Regions from separate parts of the Homo sapiens genome. Here region 2 is linked to region 1. The links come from fine-mapping of genetic effects on gene expression. A gene starts in region 1. The other region holds a variant in brackets. All regions are shown on one strand. Distances are from middle to middle. Region 1 holds the start of SUCLG1 (succinate-CoA ligase GDP/ADP-forming subunit alpha). Region 2 has its middle 22 kb from the start of DNAH6.

Region 1 (5,384 bases):
GGGGGTACAGCTTGCTTTTATACATTTTAGGAAGGCATGACATATCAATCAATATTTGTAAGATGTACATTGGTCCATCCAGTAAGGCAGGGACTTCCTGGTTAGAAGTAGATAAGAGACAAAAGGTTGCATTCTTTTGAGTCCTTGATCAGCCTTCCACTGAATACACAATTTAGTCTGGCTCAGTGAATCTGCATTTTTACATAAACAATAGGGCAGAGGGAGCAATCAGATATGCATCTGTCTCAGGTGAGCCTCAGAGTGATGACTGAGTTCTGCCTGTCCTTTATCCACCAGGAATTTCCTGTGGGCAAATTGTGAGGGAGGTATGTAGCTTATTATCTTTGTAGCTATATTATTTAGGAATAAAATGGGAGGTAGGTTTGCCTCAGGCAGTTCCCAGCTGGACTTTTCTCTTGGCTTGATGACTTTGGGGTCCCGAGATTTATTTTCCTTTCACACCCTCATACAGTGAATTCTAGTCTTTTGCTTATCTGAGCCGGCTGGGATGTGGGGGTGAGAATTCAAAGACAAGTTTGGCCACTTCCTATCAAACTTCAGAGAGAAGTAGCTCCTAGACTGCCCTCCTTATGGATGTGGAGGTAAGGCTTGTTGTCTTCAGCTTTAGAGCTTTAGACAAAGTTTTGAGACAAATAGAAATATCCTATTCTAATTTGGTTACTCACTTTAGTTAAAACCTTTAAAACATGATCCTGCCATGTAAAAAAGACAGTTCTTTAATGATAATAACTACCATTATCGACTATTTGGTACAAGGTGACAGTAGCTTTATATACTAAATGTATTAAATGTTCACAACACTCTTATGAAATAGGGAGTTTCATACCCATCTCAGTAATAAAACCTGAAACCCAGAGGTCATGTAGCCAGTGGCAGAGTTGGAATTTGAACCCAGACCTGTCTGATTTCCAAACTCAATCTGCATACAAAGATGAGTGGTGTGGTATTGACTAGTGTGGTTGTCCCCTACCTATGAGCTACAGAATTGAGGTAGGGGTGTTCCCGGACCAAACTGAGGGTTGGGCTGCTATTTTTTGTGGCCCAATAATGAGATGTAGATGAACTGGGGAGGAAGAGAGTTTTTATTTCTGCAACCGATTACAGGGAGAAGGCCTGGAAATTATCATCAGACCAACTTAAAATTACAGTTTTCCAGAGCTTATATACCTTCTAAGCTATATGTTTACTTGTAAGTGTGCATTTATCTAAAGACATAAGTGATTAACTTCTTTTAATCTATAACTAAGGTCTGAGTACTGAAGACCATCCTCTGAAGCCTCAATAAATTTACTTAATCTACATGGGTTTAGGTGCTGGGGTGATTACCCTTATCTTATCCCCTGCTAAATCACAGAGGTTTGGAGAGTTCTTTCAGACCTCCAATAAACTTGTTTGTGGAGGCCTGGGGAGTTTCTTCGGACCTCCAATAAAACTTGTTTAATCCTAAATGGGTCCTGTTAAGAATTTCTTCATTAATTTGTCATGCTTCAAGGCCCAGGAAAGGCCTAGGCAAAACCCTTGGTGGGTTTCTGTTACATCTCAGCCTTTGTATAAGGGCACTGGCTTTTAATATTTAACTTAACCACTCAGTCAGCACTGAAACATTGTTATGGAGGCCTGCGTTAGTGAGACCTGGTCTGCCACAGGGGTGCAGTTATTACAAGAGGTTGAAATATCCTAAGTCCATCAAACATTGCCTGTGGATCCAAAAAATAATCTATATACTACTATTTCTCCTATATATATCAATTCAATTCAACGATGAGTTATTTGTGTAAGGCATTGTTCTAGGTGCTGGGGATACTCCAGGATACAAAACAAACAAAAATCCCCGTCTTCATGGAAATACAAATTTTCATTAAAAGTGTACTGAAATTATATTTTTTGTCATCATGCATTTTATCAATTAAATGAAACTAAACATATAACTTATCAAGCGACAGCTCAGGAATAATTTTGCTATTTAAAATAGCAAGGGATTTTCTATTTATTTGCCATAAAAATGTCCATTTTGTTATAATGGATATATCTGGAAACCACTGATACTATTTAACTCTGAGGAATTTAGTTATCACAAGAACATGATCCATGAGGGAGGAGTTTATTTGCAGTGAAGTCCAACCTGTTAATGACAATATTTGGATCATAAAGGAAGTATTGGGCAATCTCCTGGGGTAATCCCACTCATCCATCCCACAGCTCAGTGCCAATTATAATGACTACCTAAGTAAATTAGGATTGCAATTTTATTGACAATTCTGATGAGGAATCTCAGGAGCACGATTTTCGGCAGAGACGCAGATTACTTCATCTCTTGTTTACCTTTTGACTCTGGGACTCTCTGAGGTTCCTTCTAAAGCTGTTACAGAAGAGGGAACTGTTTGTCCAATCAGGGAGCAAAGTCACATTTGACCTCGAATTTCAGCCCTTAGGATCCTCAGGGAATAAACACTCATGCACTTAGTGCTAGTCAAAGACTGCATGATTATTTAACTAAAAAAATTCACATTCCAAGAAGTTAACTGTCAGTAAGATAGGTTTTGGTCTTTCTCATCACATCTTTCCCTTCACAGGCCACCAGTGCCAGTTCGAATTCCCGTCCCCAGCGGCAACCCTTCCGGGTCCAGGCACAGGTACGCGGTGAGAAATATTATTCTCTCTAATAGCAAACGAGGAAAACGAAGGGGGAAGGAGATGGGCCTGGGATACAAAGTTCTGGCACTGCTCTTCGCACCTCACCTCGCTGTTTCTTCCCTCCTAGTCTTCAAGTCCCTTGTCTCCCCGGTCTCACTGCCGCTCTTCCCTCGCTCCCTTCCCGCCGCCTCACTCAAAAGCTACGAACCAGTCGCGGCCGTCAGACTACATTGCCCACAATGCCACGCGCTGGCCAGTCTCGCGTGGGGTTTTCCCTCAGCTGCTGTTATAATTAATGTTAATCAAACCCACATTTCTAGGAAGGAGCCGAGTTATTATCTGCCTCTCCGATAGGATGCCTCTTTGTCTTCACCTGCCATTCCCGCTGTTTCGTGAAGAATCCTCTGTAAAGGGAAATTTGTTCAGGCGACTGCTGTGGCCACCCTCTGCCTCCTCCGGCCTCTGCCCCTGGGAGGTCCCCGGGGGCCTGGGAGTGTCATTGGCGTATGACCGCAACCCTTGCCGCTGCCGCTGACATCGCTACCATGGTCTCCGGCAGCAGCGGCCTCGCCGCCGCCCGTCTCCTGTCGCGCAGCTTCCTCCGTGAGTCCAGCCAGTACTGTCTTCCTGGCGCCCGCGGGTTATTGGCCCCGCCGGACCCAACCTCCTGGCCCAGGCCGCGGCTGGGCCCTCAGGGCTGGACCTCGGCGGGGGCCTGGGAGCCGCTTGGGATTCCGGCTTCGAGTCGGGGACCCCTACGGTGGAAGGAGCTTTGCTGGATACGTGGGGCGGGGGGCATGACTTAGGCCGCTGGCAGATGGAGATATTGGGTGGCTGAGCCAGGATTCGGGTCCGGGAGCCCTGCAAATTTGGGAGCTTGCTCTCGGCCCCGCGGTGACAAATGACAGGATGGGGGTGGCGTCTAGACTGGCCTTATTTGGAGTTGGGGATGAAGAGGTCCAAGGTGAACTTGGTGGGGAAGGTAAGGGTCTGGGTTGAGAGGTAGAGGAAGAGTGTCTCAGTAGGAAGTTGGGGGATGAGGCTGTCCCTAGTACGGAAAGGTCCTGCACTTCGAATTCCCCCTCTGCAGGATTGTATGTCAGGGAAAGATGGTTTCTGCACACGGAGTGGGGTCGGCATAGCCGCATAGACTACTAGAAGCTTATGGTTGGCTGGGACCTAAACCAGCTTATTTGCAGTGTCTCCACCAGGCGATTTGTGGACACATCCGTTCCCGAAAACTTAGTACCCAAGGTTGCTAGTCTTTGAGACACGCTGACTATGGAAAATTCTTGCCATATTCAAAGTCTCTGTGCTTGTCAGGTAGGTTATAGTAGAAAGAAACTTTGGAATCAGCCACATCAGGGTTTGAAGTCTGGCTAGTCCCTTTTCAGTCTGTGTAATAACCCTGGACACTTAATCTGTTTTTCAGTGTTTCCAATCACATGAAAATATTAACACATTTTAAGGGGCCTGAAGCACCATCACTTGTAAGGTGGACCATTATTTTGTTTACCACTAACAATGAAGAACGATTGCTTATTAAAACTGTGACACACCAGTGGTTGTCACATGTATCCTGGTTTTTTAAAAAGTGAAAAAAAATGTGCATTTTAGCAATGATGATGTACAGGATGATCTGGGTTCACTGCAGAATAAGTGGAGCAATTTATATAAAGCATCTCGTATGTAACAAACACTCAAAGTTAGTTTTCTTTTTCCGCTTTGCTCTTAATTCTGCTTGTACTGAATATTTTATGAGACTTAATTCCTTTCTTGAGAAGATTACATTCTGAAAGTGTACATTGATGAGTGTGCACTCAATAGCTAACACTTAGTTGCCAATCACTTGAGGACAAAGGTCTGGCTAGATAACGTTAGCAAGTATGAAATGGTTTGTTTGGTAAAGCTTTCTGGAGATTCTTGAGAGTGTTGTAGGCAGAAGGACAAAAAGAATTCATTATACCCAGTAATCACTCAGGTCAATAAAGTTTGAGCACCAAGAATGAAGTATATTGGATATGGTTTTAAACCAGCTTAATTTGAATAGATAGTGGGTTAGAATGTAGAAGATCAGATGTGCAGCACAGCCACTGTGGTGGGAAACCCTAGGAAGAAGTTGCCCACCTGTGTCTTTCGCTTCTGTGGTCTTGCTAGTCTGAGGTTCTGAAAGATCCTAGCCTCAGGTAGGTCTGCTGTCTAGAAAAATCTAGAGAATAAAGGAAGAGTGTCTAAAAGATCTAGTTCCTTACTCCACCCTTAGCAGTCCTCTCAATCCTCTTCCCACAGAACTGGAAGTGTGTTCTTCCTAGACTCCCAGGATCATTTGGCCCTAGAGTGACCATCTGGTTTAGTTTTGTTACTGGAGTGGGCTTGAATTATTCAAGTCATGTGATTAACTTGTTATTACGGGTCTGAGATTTAAACCAAGATGTATTCTATATTAAGAGGGGTTACAGACAACAATGCTTAATGTGTAAACACCTCTAAATTCACAAAACTCTAACTCCTCTTTCCCATGCCACATTTCCGAGCCCATTTTCACTCCCACTAGAAAAATAGCAGCTACAACATCACCTTGCAAACTTTTTTTTTAAAAAGGGACCAGAAATTATTTAGTCTGTGAAGCTAATAGAGCTACAGATGTTAGGGAATTTTGTTCCCTCTGTTAAGTTTCAACTTATGGTACATTACTTGCTGAAGGTCATAGTGTTGCAATATTGATTAGA
Region 2 (5,384 bases), 34 kb before region 1:
GGCAAGGGGAACAAGAAAATTTTGGGGAGTGATGGAAATGTTTTATATCTTGGTAACTTTGGTGGTTACATGGGTATATAAATGTGTACAAATTCACTGTACTGAATTTCTTAGAACATGTGCATTTTATAATATGTAACTTATAACAATAAAATTGATTTAAAATTATATTTCTAGTATTAGACCTCAAAATCACAGGTGGGAGTTTCTAAACATACAGATTTCCAGGACTCATGCCAGATCTGATGAATTAGAATCTTTGGCATTGGCACCCAGGCAAGTATTTGCTTGAAAAATTCTTATAGGTGATTCACATGAATATCTCTGGTTTAGAACCACATCTGCAGGTGAAGAAATATAAAGATGAAAATATTTTAAAGTTACATTAAGTATTAATGTCATAAAACAGTTTGCATAACATGATTATATTTTTGTAAGCCCAGAATATATATAAACTCAGAAACTACATAGAAGAAAAACATAAATATTTAGGAGATTTATGGTTATTTTTATGTGATGCCCTTTGCTATTCTGTGTGTTTAAAAATAAAGACCATATCCTACTTTTACAATGAAAAAATTAGTTACTTTTAAATTAGCATAAGAAGGCTTAAAGTGGAGGGACCATGAACTTGGTGGAGGCCAGGATGAAATGGATCAGGAGCACTGCTGAAAGATTTAGTTTTTGATAAAAAGAAATGACATCTGTCCCATGTAGATGGAAGAAAGGTGGCAGTGGGTTAGGTAAAGTGATAGATTTGGGGCCTTATTTATTCTATTTCCTCTCTGAAGCAGGAGATGTGGTCAGCTGCTGAGAAGCGTGGAGGTGGGAGTGGGAGAGGCGTCATATAATTTATACGGGAGTTAATGTCTCTTCAGCCTTGGCTGTCCAGTGTAATTTCAGGGTCTGTGAACTGCTTACAATTGTATTCATGTTTGTGTGCGTGTATTTCTTTGTCTGTAACGTTGATAAGATTCTTAAAAGAGTCTGTGACCAATCACCTCTCAAAGATGAGAATTAGACATAGTCTGCAAGTGGGGCACTCTTAAGTGTTGGCATAAGTCACGGGCTGCTTAACTTTCTGAGGGGTTTGTGATATCGTATTCTGTTGCTTCATCACCACCTCGTGGTCAAATATATGCATTACCAGATTTTGTATCAGGGCAATGGTTTCTTAAATCTGAAAGGAACTTGAGGCATTATATGGTCTAATGCCCCATTAGTTATGAGAATTAATAATTATTATAAAGTTTTCCTTCAAAATATTGAACCAATGTGAATATGTATGAGTGATGAGCCCTGCCAAGCCTAGATAATTACATTTCAAGACTTAAAGGTCTTTGCAGAGGTGATCTCTAAGTTAGTGTTTTTGTGATTTGAAAAGGTCAAAGAGGCTGGACGCAGTGGCTCATGCCTGTAATCCCAGCACTTTGGGAGGCCAAAGTGGATGGATCACCTGAGGTCAGGAGTTCGAGACCAGCCTGGCCAACATGGTGAAACCCTGTCTCTACTAAAAATACAAAAATTAGCAGGGCATGGTGGTGCATGCCAGTAATCCCAGCTACTGGGGAGGCTGAGGCAGGAGAATCGAGTGAACCCGGGAGGTGGAGGTTGCAGTGAGCCGAGACTGCCATTGCATTCCAGACTGGGCAACAGAGCAAGACTCTGTCTCAATAAATAAATGGTCAAAGGGCATTTAAACTTAGTTGCATATTAAGATCACTTAGAGAACTTTGAAAAATTCTGATGCCCAGGCCACACATCATATGAATTAAACTCTCTAAGAGTGAGAGATCCAGACATTGATAGTTTTTCTAAAGTGTCCCCTACCCCAGGTGATTCCACAGAGACACATCTGAGAGCCTCTGCCACAGCAGCTTGCTATTCAAGGTGTGATCCATTGACTAGCAGCATTGGCATCACCTGAGAGCTTGCTAGTCATGCAGAATCTCAGATCCTGCTCCAGACCTCATGAATCAATCTGTATTTTAATAATTCCCAGGTGGTTCAGTTCATATTAAATTTTAGAAGTGCTGCCATGGAGAACAGAATTGGTGTCCAGTAAGTCTGCTGGATATGGAAGGCTGGAATGGTGCCTGGAAGGTGAGTTTCTCATCTTTGATCACATCCAGTTACAGGAAATGCATTATATCTGTGCCTCTGTTAGATAGTTCTAATTTTCAGAAAGTTCTGTTTTGGGTAGATGTCAAAATCTACTCTCTAGTCACTTCTACAAACTGTCCCCGTGTTTTTTTCTAATGTTTGAATGCAGATATTATTCTACTCTTAATTTTCCTTCTTTAAATCTCTCCCTCCTAACCTTCCAGTTTCTTTAGTCCGTGTATGATATTTTTGCAGAACTCTCTTTAGTAATTCTACACTAAAAATGGCTCTTGGGACTGAAAGTGGGATTTTCGATGTGATGTGACATAATGAGTACAGTAGGAAAATGATTCCCCTTCATCTAGAAATTCTGCTAATGTCTCCTTTTTGCTTCCTGAAAATCAGGATATTAGTCATGGTCTTCGTCAAATGCTACATTATAGAGAACCTGTATCCGGCAAACAAATCAACATTGATGGTCCCAGGGCCTCAGATGATTCATATGCTACCACTAATAGTGTCCTGAGCTCTCAGAGAGAGACCAACGTGTGAGTCCTGGGCTGAGGTTTTTTGGACCTTTGTCTCCAGTGCAGCCAGACTCTTGTCCCC[A/G]ATCCCCTTCTCCTAGGACCACATCCTTTCACAAAGACAGCCCTTCCCTCAGTGTGGCTGACAGGGAAAACCTGCAAAACGCAACTGCTGCCTCTGATCTCACTCTGTCCATTCTGTCTTGCCTTTGACTCCAAACTCAAACTAATGACAACCACTCCTGTTCTTACTGTGGCCTTAGTTCCTCGTGCTTGACCATAATACACCTTGTGTGCCTTGGTGGGGAGCCTTGCTTGTTGTCACAGTCTCTTCAAACTGAACAAACAGCCTATCATGGACCAGTTTCATATCAGTTATCCTTGTTAGAATATTTGATATCAGCATCTCACCCCTTTACTCATCTTTGGGCCTGAAGCTGTTGTGTCTACCAAGGATGTCCCAGCCTAGCTTCCTCTTGGACCATCTGCGTCACTTGTATAGCCATCCAGTCTTCTGGCGCCGATTCCTTCTGGAGCCTTTCAGTGATGACTCATTTACATAACTTTTTAACTCCAGGAATTTAAACTATGTAGGCTCAGCCAACGATTTTTGCTTATAGAGTTCAAATTAGCATCTTGGAGAGAAATTTTTCAGCATTTGTTGAGTTTTGAAAGCTACGTGTATCTTTTAAAGGTAGTTCCTCTTTTATAAATTTGACTTTAAAAATATGTGATCAGAGGCACAAAGATATTTATTTAAGGATTTTAATGGAAGCTACATTTAAATAAAATATAGTATCTAAACTATGATTCCCAATAAGTTGCTCTAGCCAATTAAAACGATGAAGGAGAGTTATATGTATTGACATGACATGGGGCAATATACTCAATATACTGCTAAGTGAAAATGTGAGTTTCAGAATATTATACATTATTTCATTTTGTTTAAAAATATACATATGGTATATAGTCTATATTTATGGTACAGAATTTGTATACATATATTATCTACATATAGCACAGAGCAGGGATTAGCAAACTCTAATCTATGGGTCAAATCCAGACTTCTACCTGTGTTTTTGTAAATAAAGTTTCACTGGATCATAGCCATGCCCCTTTAAAATAGTAAATAAAAATATTTACTATCTGGTCCTTTAAAGTAAAGATTTCCCAACCCCTGCTATAGTAAATATATATACATGTAGTATATAGAAAAATATATAGAATATACAGTATATATAGAAAGCGGTCACCATGTCAAGATAAAGTACCATTTTTATTTTAGGAGACTGAATCTTCTAGAAAATTTCTCATTGCTGTCAGCTTTTGCTTGTGTTATGATTTTGTAGTTTGTGTCATTATTTTTTATTATCTTTAGACATATTGGAACTCAGTAAGTTAATACTAGAAAGACTCCAGAAATTGTGGTTTCAAATGGTAAGAAGATAGTGACACACAGTGGGCAATAGCAGTAAGCTCTGAGAATTCATTCCCCGAGGCACTTAGGTATTTGGATAAAAAGTGTATGACAAGATTATTCCCATAGATGTAAGAGCAATATGGCATTTTGACTATACCAAACTAATTTTATTTCTTCTTAAAACCCCACTAAAAGAATTTCTTTAAAGTTGGAAACTCAGAAAAATTAGAAGAATGGGAAAAGAAACAAAAATATGAAATATGAATAGTAAGTGATTTAACAAAAAATAAAGGTGGACTCTAAGCAATAGTGAGAAAAGAAAATAACCAACTAATATACATAATAGAATCCTTCAAGCCTCTGGAATTTGTGGCACCACACAGGTCTGGAAATAAGGGTTGAAACAAGGGGGTTGGTTGACAGTCTGTTCAAGGATTGAATGGGTCTTCAGATTTGCTCCATCCTCCCCCAGTTACAGGACAAGACTGGAAATTTATTCTCTGGAATGAGTAAAACAGAAGGTCTCTACTCTAAGGGACAGTAGGCACATTTGAAGGTGGGTAGCCTACTAAAAACAGTGTCATTATCTGAATGTGAGCATGCAAAATGACAAGATCACCCAACCCTCTTTCCCTACTTAGCTCTCAGAAAGGTGACATAGTGTGTTGAATCATTACAATTTTCTTTAGACCTAAGGCATTCCCAAGATGGGGTCTATTTTAAAATTATGATAGGCCTGAGCAAACAAGGATGAGCTGGTTACCCAAGCCTTAAAGCACTGGTAGTTAGACCTCCACCTTCTGAGCAGTAGACTGGGAGAATCTTCTCGGCGGAATCTGACCGGCGCAACGGGGAAGACCTGAATGTGTGGGCAGCCAAGTTCTACGACTAAGTGGCCCAGCCAGATCAACCCTGCAGTGAAGCATACAGTAAACAAGTTTTACCTGGGTACTGTTTTGTGTTTTTAGACCCTCTGTCTTAAAAATAGGCAGACAACTAAAGACTGTTAGAAAATTCAAGGAAAGCCTCTAACACCAAAGACAGAAACCAAAACATTCAACAGAAAAAACAACTTGAGAGGTAGGCACATGATTCAAATTGCAATGATCAGAGTCTTTATCTTGAATTCTAAAATGTGGATCTGGGAGAAAGAACACTTCTTCTGCAGTCCCAGACATCATGTCCACAATGAAGATAGAATGAAGGGAATAAGCTTAAAGAATATACTTGTCCCTTTACGGCAAAAAAGTAAAAGCTCTCCCAGAAGCCCCTATGTTTGATTTGGACTTATGTCTCATTGGCCAGGACTGGATCCAACAGTCACACCTTGCTGAAAG

What was found. PIP is the estimated chance that this variant, and not a neighbour inherited with it, causes the effect. A credible set is the group of variants that fine-mapping cannot tell apart.
Region 2: its variant is the best candidate, but not a certain one, in a credible set for the expression of SUCLG1 in whole blood (TOPMed, PIP 0.59).

The regions. Positions count from the first base shown.
Region 1 is chr2:84,457,047-84,462,430 of GRCh38, reverse strand. SUCLG1 (succinate-CoA ligase GDP/ADP-forming subunit alpha) reads left to right here and starts at 3,151. Exons shown (of 9, transcript NM_003849.4): 1 at 3,151-3,258. The coding sequence starts at 3,162. It also overlaps a transcript of DNAH6 not described here. RefSeq lists a silencer at 2,605-2,794 and an enhancer at 2,975-3,114.
Region 2 is chr2:84,491,471-84,496,854 of GRCh38, reverse strand. It overlaps a transcript of DNAH6 not described here. Among named protein-coding and RNA genes, the nearest start is that of DNAH6, 22 kb to the left of the region's middle. The variant A/G (reference allele first, on the strand shown) is at 2,713.